Homo sapiens: one gene and its partners. The protein of the gene in region 1 interacts with the protein of each later gene in a pairwise test. Each region holds a gene or a part of one and is shown on either strand. Other genes may lie near its edges.

Region 1 (3,512 bases):
TTATGAGCACATGGCCGGCCCCTAATAGATGTTAATGTTAAAAGTCATGATTGAAAGGAGTCAAGAGAAGATTGGCCGAAAGAGAAAGAGGGATCATCAAAAAAAGTTATGGGTGGAAAAAGAGCTTGAAGCCGGCTGTGCCGCGTACCCCTCCCACCACGAATGTGTCCACATGCACCAACGTGGCACTTGTCCTTCCAGCCATGTACCGCGGCAACGCTTGCTGACCCCAGTGAGGAGAGAGGCCTGAATCCGAGGGCCCTGGCACCTGTGAGCTCTTGGCTGTCACCTGCCCCAAGCCTCGCACCTCCGCTCCACAGCAGGTGCTTCCTGCGTTTCCTCCGCCTCTCACCCGTCCTCTCCACCCCCACCCCTTTCTCTTTTCACGCCTGCTGGCTGAGGGCCCCCTCCCTCCTCGGCTCCATCTGCTGCAAATCTGTCCCCGCCCGGCTTTGCAGCATTCCCACTGCCTCTGCCACCTGTCAGGTGCCGTCTGCTCTGCAGACCCCTCCGAGGAGAGCAAAGAGCCCCCCGGGCAGGCACCCCTTTCCACCCTCCATCATCCTTCTCCAGCCTCCCCTGTACAGTCTTTCCCATCTGGTTCATGAGGCATGTGGATTCCAGGGGTCCTTGAGGTTCCGCCTCGAAAGGGATATTGGGAGGAGGACATTCCAGAAAGCTCGCCGGGGTCAAGGGATGTACTGACCCTTTCCCTCCTCCTCAGTCCCCACAGGAGACAACCCTGACGGGAGCATGGAGCTGCTGTCCACGCCCCACAGCATTGAGATCAACAACATCACCTGCGACTCCTTCCGCATCTCCTGGGCCATGGAGGACAGTGACCTGGAGAGGGTCACCCATTACTTCATTGACCTTAACAAGAAGGAGAATAAGAATTCCAACAAGTTCAAGCACCGGGTGAGTAGAAGGTGTCCTGGGAGCCCCTCCCCAGCTTCTGTTCCTGAAGGAGGCCGGATAAGGGAACACCTGGAAGTGATGGCTTGGAGTCAGAGGCTGGTTAAAATCCACACTCTTCTTCCTGTGTCATTTTGGGAAAGTTACTTGACCTCTCTGAGCCTGAGCTCCTTCCCTGGTAAAGAGGGAATAACAATGCCAAGCCTCACGGGGTCGTGGAGAGGATGCAGTGAGTCATGTTTGCGTGGTGCTTGGCCCGGCGCCTAGCACAGAGGGAGCGTTGTTATCAGCGCCACAACTGAGACTTCAGGCAGGGGCAGAGAGCCCGGGTAGGGTGGGGCCGCAGGCTTCGCCTATGGGGATGACGTCTCAAGTCTCGACAAAGCCCCGGCTCAGGGCACAGCCTCGCTGTTGGCTGGGTGGGCCACACGGGCCTCGGTCGGGGCGGAGCCCTTTTGCTGTGGCCTCAGTTCTCCCTCTCGGGCCCCTCACCTGCTGGCCTGCCATTTGCTTGACTTAGAAAAGGAATGGGAGAGAGTCCTCCGTGGGTGTGTCCTTTCCTGGGGTTAAAAGCCAGTGTGGGGGTGGGTGGGAGGAAGACCCCCATCCTCTCAAGCTGGCAGAGGCAGGGGGAGTGAGGCGGCCAGCTGGCTCCCAGGCCGACGGCACCGGCGTGGGTTACTCACCCGCTCTCTTTCTCTGGAACCGGCTCTCCCGATCTGGGTGTCTTTTGGCAGGCCAGTTGCCACGGTGACGTGAATGTTCAACACCACCCCCTTAACCCTCCCCCCCAAAGAATAAGGCATATTTTCCCTTCCTCCCTGGCTTCTCAGCATTTGCCGTTGCCGTGGAGACGGCACTGCAGTGTGCAGAGCTCTCAAAGTCTCCTTAAAAAATGAAGGCCTTGCCGTCCTCAACTTTGTGGCTTTTCCCCTCCGTTCCCAAGAGAACGGGGTGTCAGGGGGGTTCGAGGAGGGGCCAAGGCTGTGGAGTGTCTGGGTGGCCTTCCCAGGAAAATGGTGGCCAGGGTATGGAGCCATTGGATCCTCAAGATTGGTCCTGCTCAGGAGAAACAGGGCCATCTGGGGAGTGGGGATTCTGGGGTGATGCCCAGATTGGGCATGAACCCCTGTTTGACGCCTGGCTCTCTGTTTGTACCCTGTTTCTCAGGACGTCCCCACCAAGCTCGTGGCCAAGGCAGTGCCGCTGCCCATGACGGTGAGAGGCCACTGGTTCCTGAGCCCCCGCACGGAGTACAGTGTGGCCGTGCAGACGGCAGTGAAGCAGAGCGATGGGGAGTACCTGGTGTCCGGCTGGAGCGAGACGGTGGAGTTCTGCACTGGGGGTGAGGCCCTGCTATCACACCCCTGTCCTGCTGCTTGGCACGTCGGGCTTTGCTGTGGTCAAGGCGGGTCTTCCTCGTAGTCCAGCAAACACTGATGAACACCTTCTGTCCACCAGGCAGCGTGCTTGGGCCACAGGGGAGATGCACGGGCATGACACCCTCCCTGCCTCCAGGAGCCCAACCTTTCTCTTCTCTCACTGGAGGCAAATGCGAACCCCACTAATCACGCTGGCAAGACCACTTCCATTAAGAAAGGGAGTTACTTTTCGGGCTTGGTACCAGATCACAGGCATCTTTTTAAACCTTGTGGTCAAAGGTGCATGACGTAAAATTTGCCGTCTCGACCATTTTGAAGTGTACAGTTCAGTGGTATTAAGTATATTCACATTGTTGTACAGCCAGTCTCCAGAACCTTTCTTCCTGGAAAACCAAAACTCTATACCCATTAAATAACCGCCCCCCATTTCCCTCTGCTAGCTACCATTCTACTTTCTGTTTCTATGAATATGACTCCTCTAGGTGTCTCATATCAGTACAATTGTATAGGATTTGTCTTTTTGTGACTGGAATATACCAAAATTTCCTTCCTTTTTGAAACTGGATAGTATTTCATTGTATGGATAGACCACATTTTGCTTAATCAATTATTTGTCAATGTGCACTTGGTGAGGCAATCACATTTCACTTGTTCTGAGCCTTCACGTAGCCTGGGAAAATGGCCCCTGGTCAATGGCCCCGCAAACTCTCTTAGCAGAACTTAACTTGTAGACTCCATCACAAACAAACAGTGGGCCTATGTGTGCTTGGTCCCTCACGACTCAGGGTCTGCCCCCACAAGATTACATTCTTTTGGTGTTCACGGTGAGAGCTGCTCCAGATCTCTCTGTCACACAGAAGAGACACGGAACATTCTCAGCCCCGGGCCTCTGAGGCTGCTGGCTCTATCCTTTGCCAAGATTTATGCCCCAAGTCTCCTTGAGCTGCTGTTGTCTTTTGAGTGGTGCTTTTTCTTTTTTTTCTCCTTCTGCCTTTTTTTTTTTTTTGAGATGGAATCTCGCTCTTGTCGCCTCCTGGCTGGAGTGCAGTGGCGTGATCTCGGCTCACTGCAATCTCCGCCTCCCGGGTTCAAGCGATTCTCCTGCCTCAGCCTCCTGAGTAGCTGGGATTACAGACGCCCACCACCATGCCTGGCTATTTTTTTTTTTTTTTTGTATTTTTAGTAGAGATGGGGTTTCACCATGTTGGCCAGGCT
Region 2 (4,230 bases), on another chromosome or scaffold:
AGGCGGAGGTTGCGGTGAGCCGAGATCGCACCACTGCACTCCAGCTTAGGCTACGGTGCAAGACTCCATCTCAAAAAAAAAAAAAAAAAAAAAAAATGCATAGGCTGGGCCAGGCGTGGTGGCTCACGCCTGTAATTCCAGCACTTTGGGAGGCCAAGGGGCCAAGGTGGGTAGATCATCTGAGGTCAGGAGTTTGAGACCAGCCAGGCCAACATGGTGAAACCCCATCTCCACTAAAAATAATTTAAAAAATGGGCAGGGCATGGTGGCGGGTGCCTGTTATCCCAGCTACTCAGGAGGCTGAGGCAGGAGAATTGCTTGAACCCAGGAGGCGGAGATTGCAGTGAGCCAAGATTGTGCCACTGCACTCCAGCCTGGGCGACAGAAAAAGACTCTGTCTCAAAAACAAGCAAACAAAAATGCAAAGGCTGGATGAATGAGGTAAGATATAATGTAAACAGTTTTCCTGGAGTGCAGCTGGTCACAACACATCTCTAAAATCTTGTCTAGCCTACGCTACTGTCCAGTGAGGTTAGTGCAGGCATCATACCCAGGCCCTGAAGGATCCCACTCTGTGACACCCTTGCCTCCTTCCAAGCCTCCTTTGAATCCACTGCTGATCTCCTCTGCCCAATAAAACCCCCCTTCTCAGGCCGGGCGCAGTGGCTCACGCCTGTAATCCCAGCATTTTGGGAGGCCGAAGCAGGCGGATCACCTGAGGTCGGGAGTTGGAGACCAGCCTGGCCAACATGGTGAAACCCCGCCTCTACTAAAAATACAAAATCAGCCGGGCGTGGCAGCGCATGCCTGTAATCCCAGCTACTCTGGAGGCTGAGGCAGGATAATCGCTTGAACCCCAGAGGCAGAGGCTGCGGTGAGCCGAGATCGCACCATTGCATTCCAGCCTGGGCAACAAGAGCGAAACTCCGTCTCAAATAAATAAATACATAAAAATAAATAACAAAAAACAAAAACCCTTCTCCACCAATCCCTGTCAGCAAGCAGCCCGCCTGCCTCCAGGAAAAGGAACTCAGCTTTCCTCTGGGCCAAGAATGCCATCCTTACGTGAAAAAATGCTTGCCATCACTTAAGGCCCATCTCAAGTGTCACCTGCAAATAATGCTTTCAGCCGACAGCCTCTTCTTTTCTCTGACACACCCCGCCCCCATCATTGCCCTTGTCTGTCTCCCGAGGGAGCTCAGGATGGCAAGGCCTAAGTCTGATGCACGTAAGTTCCTAACTCCACCCTGTACCTGGCTCAGGGCTCCCTGACAAGCCCCAGCAAATGTTTCCCTCACTTAATGAAGTTGGAGGCACACATCCCTCCCCGGCATTGCCCAGCTCTCTTCTATCACGTTCCCGTCCCTCACAAGGGCAGCCAACACTGCCCCTTGACCTGAGGCCCACCCTCGATCCCTCCCCTTGGGTACCTGGCTGACAGGGCCCCCAGGGTGGCGCCAGTAGCCTCCAGCCAGGCCTAGGCGGGGGAGCACCTGCTGGGTGTTTCTTAGCTTGCTCTCCCTCCCTCGCTTCGCTCCCCTCAGCCGCCGCCATCCGTGCCCGGCGCTCCGCGCAGCTGCGGCCCAGGCCCAGAGAAAAGGTGTATGTCTCCCTGGCAACCCATCACCACGCAACAGGGTCTCCCGGGATACGGCCCGGGATGCGCTGACGTCAGCGCGGAAGGCGCGAGCTCTCCGCCTGCTGGCACAGCGCCGAGCAGAGCAGACCGGCACGGGGGCGGCCTCCCGGCCCGCCGCCGGATAGCGCCTCCGCCCGCCGGAAAAGGGAGCCAGAAGCTGGCTGGCCAGGCGTGGGTGGGGGCTGCAGATCCCCTTTATATGGATGACGTCCTCCTTCCCCCCACCACCAGGGGCCCAGCACCTCTGGCAAGTCCTGACTGTCCACCGAGGAAGGGCGGGAGGACCTGCTCCAGCCTCGGAGGGTTCGAGCAGATCCCAAAGAGGATAGAGAGAGACCCCGAGGAAGTTCGATCCACTCCACAGCCCAAGCGGGGTCCGAGGACACTGAGAGGAAGGGGAAAGGCTGTTGAGCTGTGCCCCTACTTCTGCAGAGATCCCCATTTTCATCCAGTATTGCCGTATCATTTCTCGGCCCCTCCCCCACCTTCCAGAAGACCAGCGCCCACTGAGTGCTCTCCTCAACTCTAAAAGCCCCCATCCCACACATCACTGACCCTCGGGCCCCTGGGGCCATTCTGTGGCAGCCCACTTGCCACCTTCCTGCTCTGGATAAATTTTGCCTCAAAACCCTAGGGTGAAACCAAACAATGATAAATTCTGACTCTCCTTCCCGTTTCCCAGCCTACCCATTCCTCTTGGAAAGCACACTGAGTTCTTCCGCCATCACTGTCCCCCCCACCACCGCCACCCTGGACCCTTTGCAGGAGGGTTGCCTTCCTTCTCTCTTCCTGCTGCCTTCTTTCCTCTCGCCAGCCTCAGCTGGTCCACAGCTCTTTACTCTTCTTTTCTGACGAACTCATGATATTTTTTCTGATTTTCACCCCTGTCCCCTGAAGCCGTTTCCTGATGCCCTGTCTGGCCCCAGCCTGGTTCTCCCTGTTTCAGCCTGGTTCTTAATATCTAAGCCAGAGTAATTTTCCTTTTCCACCTAAGCACCCTACTGCTCAGCTTCCCATCATCTCCCAGATCACATCCATGATCCCTGGTCTCACCTCTGCGACTTGTCTGACAAGTCCATCGTCCTCCAGGCCCTTCACGCTGCCACAGAAACATTTTGCCCAGCACAGAAATCATAGGCATGCTGGCTGTGTTGATGCAGAGAACCAAAAGCCCAGAACCGCTCCAGGCTCAGCTCCCAGTTCTATTCCTGTTTTGGCTCCGGATGCTGAGCCAGTCCCCTCCCCATTTGGAACCTGTGCCTAGTCACATAAGGAGAACATTCCTGCCTCATGGCTCTGAGGAGGTGGGAACACCAGGGCTCAGCCAAGCTCTCTGGGACTCGGGGAGCTGAGGCCCATTCCCTAGACAGTGCCAACAGGCAATGTACATCACAACTGACCTTTAGCTGGAGCAGCCGTCTCTATCCCTGAGCCTCGGCCAGCTGTTGGTCCCCAGAAATGCTACCAACCAGAAGGAAAACAGGAGGTTACAGGCCATCCCTGGCCCCCAACTGGTACCTAACCAGGGCTCTCGAGGCCAGTCCTGAGGTCAGCCAAACTCACCCCTGACAAGAGAAGGTGATGACTTCCTGAACTCCAAGCCTTGATAGGGCCAGAGAGATCAGAGCAGTCAGCTGCTCCTCAGCTTCAAAAGCCACGAGGTTAACTTAGGACTACAAATCCCAGAATTCCTCAAGGGAAGTACAAATCTCAGCCAGTCTTAGCTCCAAAGAACATCAAGTACCAACCACACCAAGGCCTGTGTGACTGACCACCTGCCCTGAAGGTCCAGGACCCATCCCAAACCCAGTCCTGCCTTGCCTTATGCGTGGAGAAATCCACCACACCGGAGTAAAGGAAGCTGGCCGACCTCTGATGCACAGGACTACGGCCAGGCCCGGTGTGCATGGCCACCCACGGAAACCGAGGCCCAGGCAGGGGTCAGCACTGTGGGAAGGAAGCCCTGATGGCCTGCCTCTGGGTTCCTCTTTCCCTCCACAGAGTAGAGTGATTTGTTTTTGCTGAGTGGGGGCAGGACATTAAAACAACTGTAATAGGTGAGAGGTGATTCAGTGTTCACAGGTGCCCCAAACGGGACCTCAGTCCCCCTTCGCCGACTGACTGAAGAGGGGAGTCAATGTCCGACAAAAATTCTGTGGTAGGGTGCTTAGCCAGGACCGAAAGGCTACCTCTTTAAGAAGATGGGGACACGGCTGGGAGAAGCAGGTTCCCAGCACAGGGCCACTCCCAGGACTGTGAAGGCAGAGGTGTAGGCGGAGGGGAGTGTGTGTGTGGGCGCGCAAGGCCAGTCGCCGAGGGCTGGAGTGGTGGGGGCATCGGGCTGCCCAGCCCCTCCCGGGGCTGTGCGTCTCCGGCCACCCTGAGCAGTGGGCACACGGCAGCCAGCGGCGAGACCATGCGTCTGCCCTGCAAAACCCCAAGGCAGGCAGGCCGTGGGAGCGAACCGGAGTCGGTCTGGCCCCTTCCCTGCTCATTCCCGCTCCCTCCTGTTGCCTGGCCCGCCTCCCGGTGCAGGCTCCTCCCTCTCCCGACACCGGCCCCCTCCTCAAGGCCCCCACCCACCCGCGGCC
Region 3 (4,307 bases), on another chromosome or scaffold:
ATAATTACAAGCATCAGTAATGAACGCAGTTTTTGCTTAGCTTTAATTCTGTAAAGTGTACTTAATTTTAATCTAGAAGTGTAGAAGTATTACATACATCCGAAATCATGTTTTTTTCTTCTACAGTCGAAAGTTTGTATTACATGTAAAATAGGAAAAAAATATTAAAATTTTTCGAAAGCGAAAAGTCTACTCAGCAAGTTTTTGGTATTTATTAATGGTTTTACTTTTGCTAGACACAAAAATGAAATACCGCTAAATTAGCTCACAGAAGAGTTCAGGATTCTATAGACTCAGGAAAAGCCTGTCCTAAAACTGTTTTAATAAAGGCTGAAAATAGACACTATAATACAGTCTTTAATAATATACAATGTGTATTCCTCCTGATGGTGGTCTTGCTTGACATTTTAAGCATAGCCCTATTTTCCTGTGAAGATAGCAGCCAGTTCTGCTTCATGTCATAACAACACTTGATTCATGTAAGCAGCTGCTACCTATGCCATCACAGTACACATAATTGCTAAATGTAGGGTTCAAATAATCGTAAATGGACACTAATATGAAAATCAGACTGTTTTGTTGTAACAGCAAAAGTTTTAGAAACAAATAATTTTAGTATCTACTTAGTACAGTAAGCATGAACATATAGTATACAGCTAGGCACAGCAGTAAATTGTTGGAAACACTAACATTTATTGTTTACGAACATACATGCAGTGTTTACACATTTCTTAAATGTTGTCTTTAATGCTGCTGATAAACGAAAGGATAAAAAGTCCAACAAACCACAATAAATGTCAATGGGTGTTATTAACAACATGAAAGAACTCAGTAGCAACAACCACATTTAAAGCTACAGGACTCGAAAGTTCCGGACTACAAATCCCAGAGTTCCCTAGAGCCCAGGCGGAGCTACCTTCAAACTGATCGCTTTTTCACCCAATGACAGCCAGAGAATCCCTAAACCACATTCAGCCCGGCCTGAAGGGCTGGTTTCTTCGCGTGAAAACAATAAGGTATTACGTAGACTTTCTGAACACGAGTGGTAGTTTCAGGGCCTGAGTCTAACTACTAAATTATTTCTCCCCGCATTAGTCTCCTAGTCATCTTAATAACTCTCTACCCAACTCTGGCTCGGTGGAAACTCGGAACGTCTAAATGCTGAAACTCACGTAAATCAGTACCAGCGGATGCATCCAGTCAGCCACGAGGAAGGCGGAATCCGCCTTATTCTTGCCCTTTATTGGCCACGCATCCCACCAATGGGGCCATTAAACTTCCGCTAACGCAGCGTACGGCGTGGTGGTGTGAGCGTTGTACGTACGCTGGGTCTACGAAGGGGCAGGCGTTCTGCTTTCGTCCAATCGGAAGCTAGCAAGAATTCCCCGGGCCGCTATGCCCCACTTCTTTCGCGTCGCGTTACGGGCCGCCTCTCTGCAGCCGACCAATCCTCTTGATTTTCTTGTGCGCATTACCCAATCAGAGAGGTCGAGGCGGGGTTCCACTTGACCGCTCTAAGCCGCCGCGCAGCCTGCGTTTTCTCCGGTACAGGTTGAGGCTACTAAGGTACATTTTGCTGGGCCAGGCTGGGCGGGTCCCCGGGATGGGCAGCCCTCTCGACGAGCGGCGACGCCGTGGTTGAGTCTAGAAAGCTAGAGTTGCTGGACAGCTATCGCGGGAGCGCGGAGGGAAGTGGGAGGTCTGGACGGAGTGTGCACGTGTTGGCAGTCTCGCTCCGCCGTCGGAGCCACCAGGTCAAACCTGTGCTGGCCCTGGCCAAAGAAACTTCTGCGGGTCAGGCTGCTGTTGCCGGTGCAGTTCCCAGTACTTCCTCTGGGGCGTTTTTCAATAAAAGCCAAACGCCCTTGCTCATTTTCAGGGAAAGACCTGTTTCCTCCTGCTCTTTCCTCTCCACGGATACTCTCCCCACCACTAAAAGGGTTTAGTATAATCCTTTTGTAGGCCAGAAAGCAGATTTTCACTTGGGAAGAGACGACCCGTAGTATGGGATGTGGTATGATACCAGCAACTGGTCTATTATATCATTTAAACCACATGGCTATCTAAAGAGGTAGGTACTGTGAGTGTTCTCATTTTCACGCGAAGCAGTGTTAGACATTACTCATTCTTGTGTTTTCTTTAGCTTGTCTCTGACAAATTGTGGCATTCAGCTTCCATGGATGTAAAATTAAAAGATGGTATAATTTGTAAAATGTTGCTCCTGTTTTCTTTTTTGTTTTTCTTTTTCTTTTTCTTTTTTTTTTTTTTTTTTGAGATGGAGTCTCAGGCTGTCGCGCAGGCTGGAGTGCAGTGGGGCGATCTCGGCTTACTGCAACCTCCGCCCCCCGGGTTCAAGCGATTCTCCAGCCTCAGCCTCCCGAGTAGCCGGGATTATAGGCGCCTGGCACCACGCCCGGCTAATTTTTGTATTTTTAGTAGAGACGGGATTTCACCATACTGGTCAGGCCGGTCTCGAACTCCTGACTTCAGGTGATCCACTCGCCTCTGCCTCCCAAAGTGCTGGGATTACAGGCGTGAGCCACCGTGCCCGGCCGTTTTCTTTATTAATTTGAAATTATTTAAAGTCAATAAAAGCCTGGGCGCGGTGGCTCACGCCAGTAATCCCAGCACTTTGGGAGGCCGAGGCGGGCGGATCACGAGGTCAGGAGTTCGAGACCAGCCTGGTCAACATGGTGAAACCCCCGTCTCTACTACGAATGCAAAAATGTGGCGGGCGCCTGTAGTCCCAGCTACTCGGGAGGCTGAGGCAGGAGAATCGCTTGAACCCGGGAGGCAGAGGTTGCAGTGAGCCAAGATCGTGCTACTGTACTCCAGCCTGGGCGACAGAGTGAGACAACGTCTCAAAAAAGAGAAAAAAAAAAGTCAATAAAACACACCTAGAAGTGAATTAATCGATTGTTACCAAGGTAAAATGATCTAGAGGAAAGACATCGCAGTAGGCACCAGTTACTGACCTTTGACTGGACAAGTCAGCATCAGCTTTTTCACCTGTATAATTGAAATAAATACCAAACTTGACTACTTAGAGTTCTGAGGATTAAATAATTTAATAGATACAAAATATGTTACCGATGAAAGCCACGTGACTGTTTCTGCTTTTCAAATTCTTTCTTGTGGAGCCTGGACTGCACTGCAACCTATGGCCGAGTAAAACAGTGGTAACTTGCAGTCAAGTACCATTTAAGTGAGAAATCCTCTGAAACGTCTATGGACTGCTTATCTCCTTGTTCAGTATTCAGGAATACTTTCCTGTGAATGCAGCTATGTTACTTACCTGGTTTGTATTCTTACCTTAGATTGTTGTAGCTATTGTAAAGCAAAAGTAAGATCAAGCCCATGTAACTACTTTTTGGGTTCTTTTCTCTCACTTTGTAAATACAGGGTGTTTTTCCAGACGGGAGTGCGGTGGCACAGTCTTAGCTCACTGCAGCCTCGAACTTCTGAGCTCAAGTGATCCTCCTGCCTCAGCCTCCCAAGTGGCAGGGATTACACACGAGCCACTGTGCCAAACCCGTGAAGTTTTTGAGTTGTACTTTTGTACTAAAGTCATGACTACTTTTTCTGCAACTGACACTATGAGCTGCAAATACGACTGAAGATGCTACTGCTTTTTTACTTTTTCCCTATGTGCTTTAAAGAACTACATTTTCAGTGATTTCCATGTGTTTAAGATATTTTCATTTACTTGGTAGAAAATACAAGAGAATTTTGATAAATCTGAACTGGAATGGTCTTTATGTTAATTCTGTTCAATATTTTAGGGCAGATTATGTACAGATTATCGCCAAACTGTCAAAAGGGTGTATTTTGTTCATATAGCTACTGTAACAAATTACAACAGATTTAGTGACTTCGAATAACACACATTTATTCTTTCTGCCTTTGTTTCTTTCTTTTTTTTTTTTCCTTTGGTGAAAAGTACACACTTAAGAAAGGGGAGTGCAGATGTACTCAAGAGAGTCACCTCTTCCTTTTTTTTTTTTTTTTTTTTGGTAGAGATGAGGTCTCGCTATGTTGCCCAGGTGGGTCTCAAACTCCTGGGCTCAAGCAGTCCTCCCACCTTGGCCTCCCAAAGTTCTGGCATTACTGGCATGAGCCACCATGCTCAGCCTCATTTATTGTCTTTTAGTTCTGGAGGTCAGAAGTATGAAATCAGTTTCACTGGACTAAAGTCAAAGTGTTGCAGGCCCAATTCCTTCTGGAGGCTGTGAGAAGAAAATCCATTTCCTTACCTTTTTCAGCTTGTAGTGGCTGCCTGTCTTCCTTGGCTTGTGGCTCTTTTCTGC
Region 4 (3,512 bases), on another chromosome or scaffold:
CAGTGGCTGGGGAGGCTACCCCTTCTCAGAAGGCCCACAAGCCAGCAGTGCCTACCTACCCCTGGGGCAGGGGCTGCCACAGGCCAAGTCTGCAGCCTGTGGGAGGGTCTGGGGCTGGCCCTGGCCTTGAGGTCAGTGGGGAAGCAGGATGCTCCCTCTGTGGTTTCAGAAGAGAAGCTTCTGTCTGACAGCATGCTGGTGGAGGCGCGGGAGGCCTCGGAGGAGGACCTGCTGGTGGTGCACACGAGGCGCTATCTTAATGAGCTCAAGGTACAGGATGTCGGGCCTGGGGGGCTGCGGGCCTGGGGCAGGGGGCTGCTGGCCAGGAGTGGCCAGAGGCAGGAGGTGACTCAGCCTGGGGAAGCCAAGTCTCACAGGGCACCCATTCATGTCCCTAGTGTTGGAGGAACATGGGAGTCTGTGGTCCCCAAGAGAAGGAGAGAGGTCATAAAAAGGCAGACCTCAGTTTGGGCCAGGCCACTCTGAGGGTGGTGTCCTCCCCTTCTCCAGGGCGTATGAAAGCCTTCATAGAATTTTAGGCTTCTACATTATGACTTTCAAGCTGTGCTCTGTCGACACGCCTCCGAGACCCCAGCCCCTGTCCTCCAACCATACATAGCTCTTTCACTTTGGTCTATTTTGTTTGTTTGTTTGTTCATTTTTTTGTTGGTTTTTGTTCTTGAAATGGAGTCTCACTCTGTCGCCCAGGCTGGAGTGCAGTGATGTGATCTCGGCTCATTGCAACCTCCGCCTTCCGGGTTCAAGCAATTATCCTGTCTCACCCTCCTGAGTGAGTAGCTAGGATTACAGGCGCGTGCCACCATGCCTGGCTAATTTTTTTTGTATTTTAGTAGAGATGTGGTTTCGCCGTGTTGGCCAAGCTGGTCTCGAACTCCTGAACTCAGGTCATCTGCCCACCTCGGCCTCCCAAAGTGCTGGGGTTACAGGCGTGAGCCACCGCACCCACCCTATTTTTTATATTGGGCTGAAGTTTAAGACTCTGGTCTAAGTACTTCTGCTGAAGTTTTGTTGAAAATTGTTGGTCTAAAAACTAATTTGAAACCCTCAGGGCTCAGCAGAGAAGAGAAACAAGTGGGAGGGCCGGTGGTAGAGTCTGAGGTGAACTCCTGCCCCTTCCCAAGGGGCGGCTCCTCAGCTCCACTGTGGGCCCGGCATGGCCAGAGCACCTGGTCTTCAAAGAGAAGCCAGGAATCCAGATTATTAAGTGACATTTCCTGATTTTTTTTTTGAGACTGAGTCTCGCTCTTGTTGAGCAGGCTGAAGTGCAGTGGCACGATCTCAGCTCACTGTAACCTCCGCCTCCCGGGTTCAAACAATTTTTCTGCCTCAGCCTCCGAAGTAGCTGGAATTATAGGGGTGAGCCACCACACCCGGCCCTGATTTCTTAATGTGGCACTCATTATAAGATTGTAAAAGCCCACCTGTAGACCAAACTGGGCACACTGGCTGCCTGCTTGTGACCTCTTTCCAGAGAAGGACACAGCTCCTATTAGTGGCTGAAGTTCTGAGGGCTGAGGCATTCAGTTCAGTGCTCTTTGTAGGAACAGAGGGGAGGTTGGGGCGGGGGCTTGCATTGGAATCTGGTACTGCCAGCCTGCCTTGGTGGGGGTGGGGTCAGGGATGCCTCAGGTTATCTGCCCCAAGAGTGTGGGAGCCCTGACCCCCAGGCTCCCTGGCTGAGCTCACCTTAGACTCAGAGCCACAGTGGATGCCTGAGGCCAGCAGGCCCCTCTGCTCCACAGGTGGAAAAGCCTAGGTCCAGAAAGAGGCTGTGCTCAAGGTCACCTGGGAAGTTGGCCGGGCCTTGGGGAGACCCCTGGCAGGTCATCCAGTCCAGTCTTCTAGGTTCCCAGTCAGGGCTGCTGCCTCCCTGCTCCCCAACCGCAGCCTGAGGTGTGAGAATTCTAGATAGGGCCACGACAGTGTGAGCACATGAAAGATTACCAGGAAGAGGTTGAAACCTGGCTCCTGGGAGAGAGAGGGGTGTGAGGCCTTGGCAGGAAGCCCAGTGCTTGGCTGCCCTGGTTTCCTGGGGCCCAGGCATGCGTGGTCACAGTCCACAGCCTAGGGCTGGGCCAGGAGGACATGCCTGCCAGAGTCCCGAGGGTGAGGGGAAGGAAGGGACAGGAGGCGCTCAGCTGGGGCAGGGAGAAACCAAAACAGAATGGTGTGATTGAACCAGGCTGGGGGTGGGGGGCCTAGGTTCCAGGGCCCCACCCATTTGAGGGGCCTTCAGGGGAACTGTGTTGGGCAGGCTGCATGCCTGGCCTTGGTCCCCCAAAAGCCTGAAAGCAGCTTACTATGTGATATATAATAATACAAAATAGCTGGGTGTAGTGGCATGCACTTGTAGTCCTAGCTACTTGGGAGCCTGAGGCAGGAGACCTTGAGCCCAGGAGTTTGAAGCTGTAGTGAGCTATGATTGCACCACTGCACTCCAGCTGGTATGACAGAGTGAGACTGTCTCTTAAAAAAAATAATAAAAGTATTAACAGGTAGAGTCCCAAGTAGAAAACTGAGGTTGAGGGTAGGAGGAGAATTCAGGTATGTCCACTGAAAAAGTTAACCAAGATGGTGATCCAGCTGCATATTTGGCTTGGAGCTCCCTGGCAGTCAGAACAAAAGGAGAAACATGATGGTTTCTACGGCACCTATTAAGATGAAGAAGTAGGCCGGGTGCAGTGACTCATGCCTGTAATCCCAGCACTTTGGGAGAACGAGGCGGGCGGATCACTTGAGGTCGGGAGTTTGAGATCAGCCTGGCCAACATGGAGAAACCCTGTCTCTACTAAAACTACAAAATTAGCCAGGCATGGTAGTGCATGCCTGTAATCCCAGCTACCTGGGAGGCTGAGGCAGGAAAATCACTTGAACCTGGGAGGTAGAGGTTGCAGTGAGCCGAGATTGCGCCATTGCACTCCAGCTTGGGCAATAAGAGTGAAACTCCATCTCAAAAAAAAAAAAAAAAAAAAAAGAAAAAGATGAAGAAGTAGTCAGTCATTCAACACATCTGTATTGAATGCCAACTGTACAGAGAGAATAAGACAGCAGGGCTCTCTGCCACCATGGATTTGCATTTGAGTCGTGGAAGATTAAAATTAAGGAAGCAACCACCCAAGAGCATTTTAGAGAGCACCAAGGGCTATGAAGAAAGTGAAAAATAGAGGGTAATTGGATGGTCAGGGAGGGCCTCACAGAGGAGGTGATGTTTGAGTTGAGACTAAACAAAGGAGCAGGTGATACTCATGTAGAGGTGTTTTTTTTTTTTTTTTTTTTTTTTGGAGAAGGAATCTCGCTTTGTTGCCCAGGCTCGAGTACAGTGGTGCGATCTCAGCTCACAGCAACCTCTGCCTCTTGGTTCAAGCGATTCTCCTGCCTCAGCCTCCCAAGTAGCTAGGATTACAGGCACCTGCCACCATGCCCGGCTAATTTTTGTATTTTTAGTAGAGACGGAGTTTTCACCATGTTGGCCAGGCTGGTCTCGAACTCCT
Region 5 (4,176 bases), on another chromosome or scaffold:
TCTCCAGGTGGGTGGGACCGCGGGAGTCTCTCTCTCCTCCTCGCTGCTCTCATACTCATCATCCAGGTGCTTGGACTGTATCATTTGAGAGAGGAGAGACCCAGGGCTACCAGGCTCCCCGTGCCAAAGCACCCGGCACGCACCTCACCCGTAGCAGGCTCTTGGAAATGAGAGCAGTACCAGCAGCGGCTGGCATGTGCTGCGTGCTTACTAAGTGCCAGGCACTGAGCCAGCCTCTTCTCCCACCAGTCCTGAGGGTAGGGACTACGTGGAGTGAAAACATGCTCAGCAAACTTGTGTTGGAGAAACATGGACTAGCTGAGAGGAGAGGAGGGGAGGAGAGGGGAGGTGAGGAGAGAAGGAGGGGAAAGAGGAGAAGAGAGGAAGAAGGGGGAGAGGAGAGGGAGGAGAGGAGCAGGAAAGGGAGGAGAAGGAAAGGACAGGAGCAAGGGGGTGTGGAGGTGGCAGGGGGCAGGGGGATCTCACCTTCTTGGTCCTCTTGCCTCCCATCCTGGCCCAGGGCTCAGCACTGTGCTGAGCAGTGGCAGCAGCTGCACCCTCCGGCTCAGGGATGCTCGTGGCCATCTTGGCCTTGGCAGCAGCTGCTGCCACAACATTCTGAGGCTCCACCCACCGAGTCTTGGCCAGCGCCTTCCCCGACTTGGTGGTCTTGGGCCGGGTGGCTGCCACCTCCCTGCCAGGTCCCGTCTGGGGCACACCAGAGGCAGCACTGGGGCCCTCTGTGGCAGCCTCTTGGGCTGGGGCAGGTCTCTTGGGGCGCGGGAAGGCCATGCCACTGACACCTGCCGGCTGAGTGAAATCGAAGACATCATTCTGGCCCAGGAAGGCTGTGCTGGGCCGGTTGGCGTCCACCTCCCTGGCACACGGAGCCTGAGAGAAAGCACAGGCGCTACTAGGGCCCTCAGTAGCAGCCTCCTGGGCCGGGGAGCCTGTCTGGGACTGTGCGGAGGTTGCCGGAGCCTCGGGGGCAGCCATCTTACTGGTGACTAACATCTGGGAGGTCTGCGGAGAAGCAAGGGGTGGCTCAGGGGTGGGCCCCTGAGCCTCGGCGGCGTAGGTCGTGGGCTGGGTATCCTCTCCTGAGACCTGCGGCGTGGCCACCCGGTGGCTAGCGACCACCTGACTGAAGGCGGTACGGGCAGCGGCGGCAGCGGCCCGAGCCGCACGGTTGGAGGCGGCGGCGCGGGCTACGTTGGCAGCACGGGCGGCCGTCTCATTGGCAAGTGTTTCCGGATCCAGCTGCAATGCCTCCACCAGGGTCTGGGCCAGCACAGGGTTTTCCAGTTCCCAGGGCTCATTCTGCAAGGCCAGAGAGAGGGGTTGGGGAAGGCAGGCCACTCGACGACATACTTGTGTTAGCTTCCCTGTGCTGGCCAGCCTCTTCCCAGCAGTCAGCCCTGAACACCCCAAGACCTTCCCAAATCTTCTTCTTCCGAGCAGGGGAGGGAAGGCTTGGGAAGCTGGGCAGTCCTTTCCCACACAACCCTCCTGGCTCCCCCCTCCTCCCTCCCCCATTCACAGGGGAAAGGCCCAGGCCAGCAGGTGTCCAGGAAGGGGCCTCACCGATAAGATGCGAAGGCCTGGACCCAAGCTTCCGAAGGCTCTGAGGATATGGATGTCAAAGCTGGTGAGGGTGCCATAGCCACCAAACGCACCGAATTCTTCATAGTCGTTGCCTTCAACCATCTCTTCCTCCCCGACTTCGTCGCTACCCTCATCCATGTCTTCAACACTGTAGCTTTCCGATTGCACGCTGAAGCTTCCCTCAGCCATGCTGCGGGTCCCAGGGAGATGAGAGCTCAGCCTGAGAGGGAGGGTGAAGCAGCTGCAGGGGGAGGGGGCGGGATCCAATGGGAGGCGGGATCTCCCGGGAGGTGAGGGGCGACAATCATCAGGTTACTAGGCAATATTAGGCAGTAGGGGGCGGGGGGGGGGAGGAGGAGCGGGGGGGAGACGGTTTGGCTTTCTGATGGGGTAGACCTGGTCAGGGACAGAGCCCAAGGAAAGGGACAGAGGAGGTCGCAGGAGGCGCCGCACTGAAAGCGGAGTTTAGGATGGGCAGGCTCGCCATCCCAGCGGCTAGATTTGACGAGGGGGTGTTCTGGAGGGCTGGGGTCCGAAGAGTCCCAAAGGGAATGCATTGGGGAAGAGAGAAACAAAGGGTTTGGATTTACGGGCCAGAGAAGGGGACCGGGATGAAGGGGGAGCAGATGGGAGAGCTCAGACAACAGGGACAGTGGCAAGCCGCAAGCTCTGCGAAACAGAACCCCAGGGACCTTTGGCTAGGTCCGGGCGGGGGGCCTAGGTGGGGCTCAGACTCGAGCACTAGAGGCGGATGGAGTGGGGGCCTCAGACCTAGGTGAGGCTCCAATCGGAGCGCTGCAGATCTCAAACGCGAGGACTGGGCACTCCAGGAAGGGGGCAAGCGGTCAGCTCGGTTCGAGTAATCTAGGAGTGGTTGGGGTGGGGGTGGGGCCTCAGGTCCAAGGGAGCTCAGCTCGGAGCACACGGGTCTGCTAAAGGGGTGAGGATCCTGGGCTCCGGTTTCAGTAGGGCTCAGATCGGGGCGCCTGGGTCTGATGGTGATGGGGGCTCCTATCTAGACCTTGGGTCTAATGGGGTTCCGGTTCTGAGTGCTTGGGCTTTGTTCAGATCCGGAGGCGGAGGGAGGGCGCAGCGTGTCGGGTTCCACTCGCCCTCTCCCGGTCCTGTCTGGGGCTGGATCCTTACCTTCTCGGGAACTCCAATGGCGTCCGTCCTCAGCACCAGGAACCCCGCAGCCGCGCCCTCGCCTACTGCTGCCAGCACAGCAGCCCGGACCACCCCGCCCCTTTTCTCCGTGCACCCCCCGCGGCTGGGTAGCCTGCGCATGCGCGGACCCCTCCAGCCCGCCCGCTTTCCCAACAAAAGCCCTTTCCTCCAGGTCTCCAGTGCGCATGCGATTCCGCGGGTGGGTGGGCGGTGGGGTCGAAGGTAGGGTGCGGGGGGCTCTTCCCGCCAGATCCACTTCACCTCTCCTCCTCCTCCTCCTCCTACCGCGGGCGCGCACACTCATACCCTGCAGTGCAGCTCGACCCACCCAATCATCTCTTCTCAGTCCCCCCACTTTTGCACAATGCTTCTCTGTCCTGCCCTGCCCTTTCACCCAAACTCCTCCAGCCTGGTCTGGGATACACTATGCCCCGTTTCCCCGGCAAGACCCCTTAGGTCACAATTAGTGAGGTCTCACAATTAATAAGCTGGGTCTCTAACTGCAACAAGTGGAAATCCTCAACCTGCGGGGCTACGAAATGGACATGGCCAGAGGATGGCACTTCGCTTTGTGTGCTTCTCCACTAGCCAACTCTCTGGCCCCCAGACATACTGGGAACATCTGCTTCCTCAGCTACCCTTTATGCAGCTTGTATGTCACAGAGGGATCTGTGCTGGGGCTTTTCTTCCTCTCACAGCAGCGCTGGGAAGTGGATGTCAGCATCCCCATTTGGCGTGTCAGGAAGCTGAGGCACAGACACATTGCATGAACTAGACCACAGAGCCAGGAAACAGAAAATGCAAAATTTGAACCTGGGTCTTCCGGACTCCAAAGTCCACCTCCTGCTCCTGCTGGCCTGGGGACAGAGGCACCGCCTCCTCCGTCTGAGTGACAGGCCTCCCCCACCCCAACATCTGTCCCAAAGAAGCAAGGTTTGTGCTGTAGAAGGCCTAAGTTCATGCTCCGCATTCAGGACACAGGGAGACAGAGCCTCCCCCCGCCTCGCCCCCAGCCTCTGCGGCTCTATGTGGGTCCATCCAGGTATGAGAATTGCTCCACCGGGTCCACTCTCTACTCAGATTGTCAGGCCTCTTCCTTATCAGCGATACAATCACGCTGCCGCTGAGACCCTCCTGGTGTCCGCCAGGACAATTAGACACCTGTGTGTCTGAGCTAATTACTCCACAATCTACAAGCCCAGTTCAAACTTCACTTTTGAGGTCCAAGTGCATAGTACATTCACCTGCCTACGTGACATCTCCACTTGGATGTCTTTTGAGGCAGAAAATGCTGTGGTCTCATCTGCAGTCGAACCTGGACTGTTTGTAAAATTCGTAGTAGATTTTTATATTTGTTTTTATGTCAGCCTCACCAGGACCCCTGTGTATGAATGGAAGGTATTG

Evidence for each region.
Region 2: the proteins of PHYHIP (region 1) and FAM131A interact in a two-hybrid assay, tested with the Homo sapiens proteins (one large-scale study listed by BioGRID and IntAct).
Region 3: the proteins of PHYHIP (region 1) and WDR89 interact in a two-hybrid assay, tested with the Homo sapiens proteins (one large-scale study listed by BioGRID and IntAct).
Region 4: the proteins of PHYHIP (region 1) and HDAC11 interact in a two-hybrid assay, tested with the Homo sapiens proteins (one large-scale study listed by BioGRID and IntAct).
Region 5: the proteins of PHYHIP (region 1) and MAGED4B interact in a two-hybrid assay, tested with the Homo sapiens proteins (one large-scale study listed by BioGRID).

What each region holds. Positions count from the first base shown.
Region 1 is NC_000008.11:22,225,599-22,229,110, reverse strand, and holds part of PHYHIP (phytanoyl-CoA hydroxylase-interacting protein), read left to right. Parts: intron 1-201; exon of another isoform or gene 202-323; intron 324-724; 5' UTR 725-753; coding exon 754-918; intron 919-2,085; coding exon 2,086-2,260; intron 2,261-3,512. UniProt on the Homo sapiens protein: Its interaction with PHYH suggests a role in the development of the central system.
Region 2 is NC_000003.12:184,336,181-184,340,410, reverse strand, and holds the start of FAM131A (protein FAM131A), read right to left. Parts: upstream 2,812-4,230; 5' UTR 2,781-2,811; coding exon 2,693-2,780; intron 2,025-2,692; coding exon 1,882-2,024; intron 1,579-1,881; exon of another isoform or gene 1,431-1,578; intron 1-1,430.
Region 3 is NC_000014.9:63,639,063-63,643,369, reverse strand, and holds the start of WDR89 (WD repeat-containing protein 89), read left to right. Parts: upstream 1-1,498; 5' UTR 1,499-1,566; exon of another isoform or gene 1,567-2,071; intron 2,072-4,307.
Region 4 is NC_000003.12:13,483,295-13,486,806, forward strand, and holds part of HDAC11 (histone deacetylase 11), read left to right. Parts: intron 1-169; coding exon 170-270; intron 271-3,512. UniProt on the Homo sapiens protein: Responsible for the deacetylation of lysine residues on the N-terminal part of the core histones (H2A, H2B, H3 and H4).
Region 5 is NC_000023.11:52,066,379-52,070,554, forward strand, and holds the start of MAGED4B (melanoma-associated antigen D4), read right to left. Parts: upstream 2,806-4,176; 5' UTR 2,752-2,805; intron 1,847-2,751; exon of another isoform or gene 1,826-1,846; 5' UTR 1,795-1,825; coding exon 1,585-1,794; intron 1,321-1,584; coding exon 487-1,320; intron 76-486; coding exon 1-75. UniProt on the Homo sapiens protein: May enhance ubiquitin ligase activity of RING-type zinc finger-containing E3 ubiquitin-protein ligases. Proposed to act through recruitment and/or stabilization of the Ubl-conjugating enzyme (E2) at the E3:substrate complex.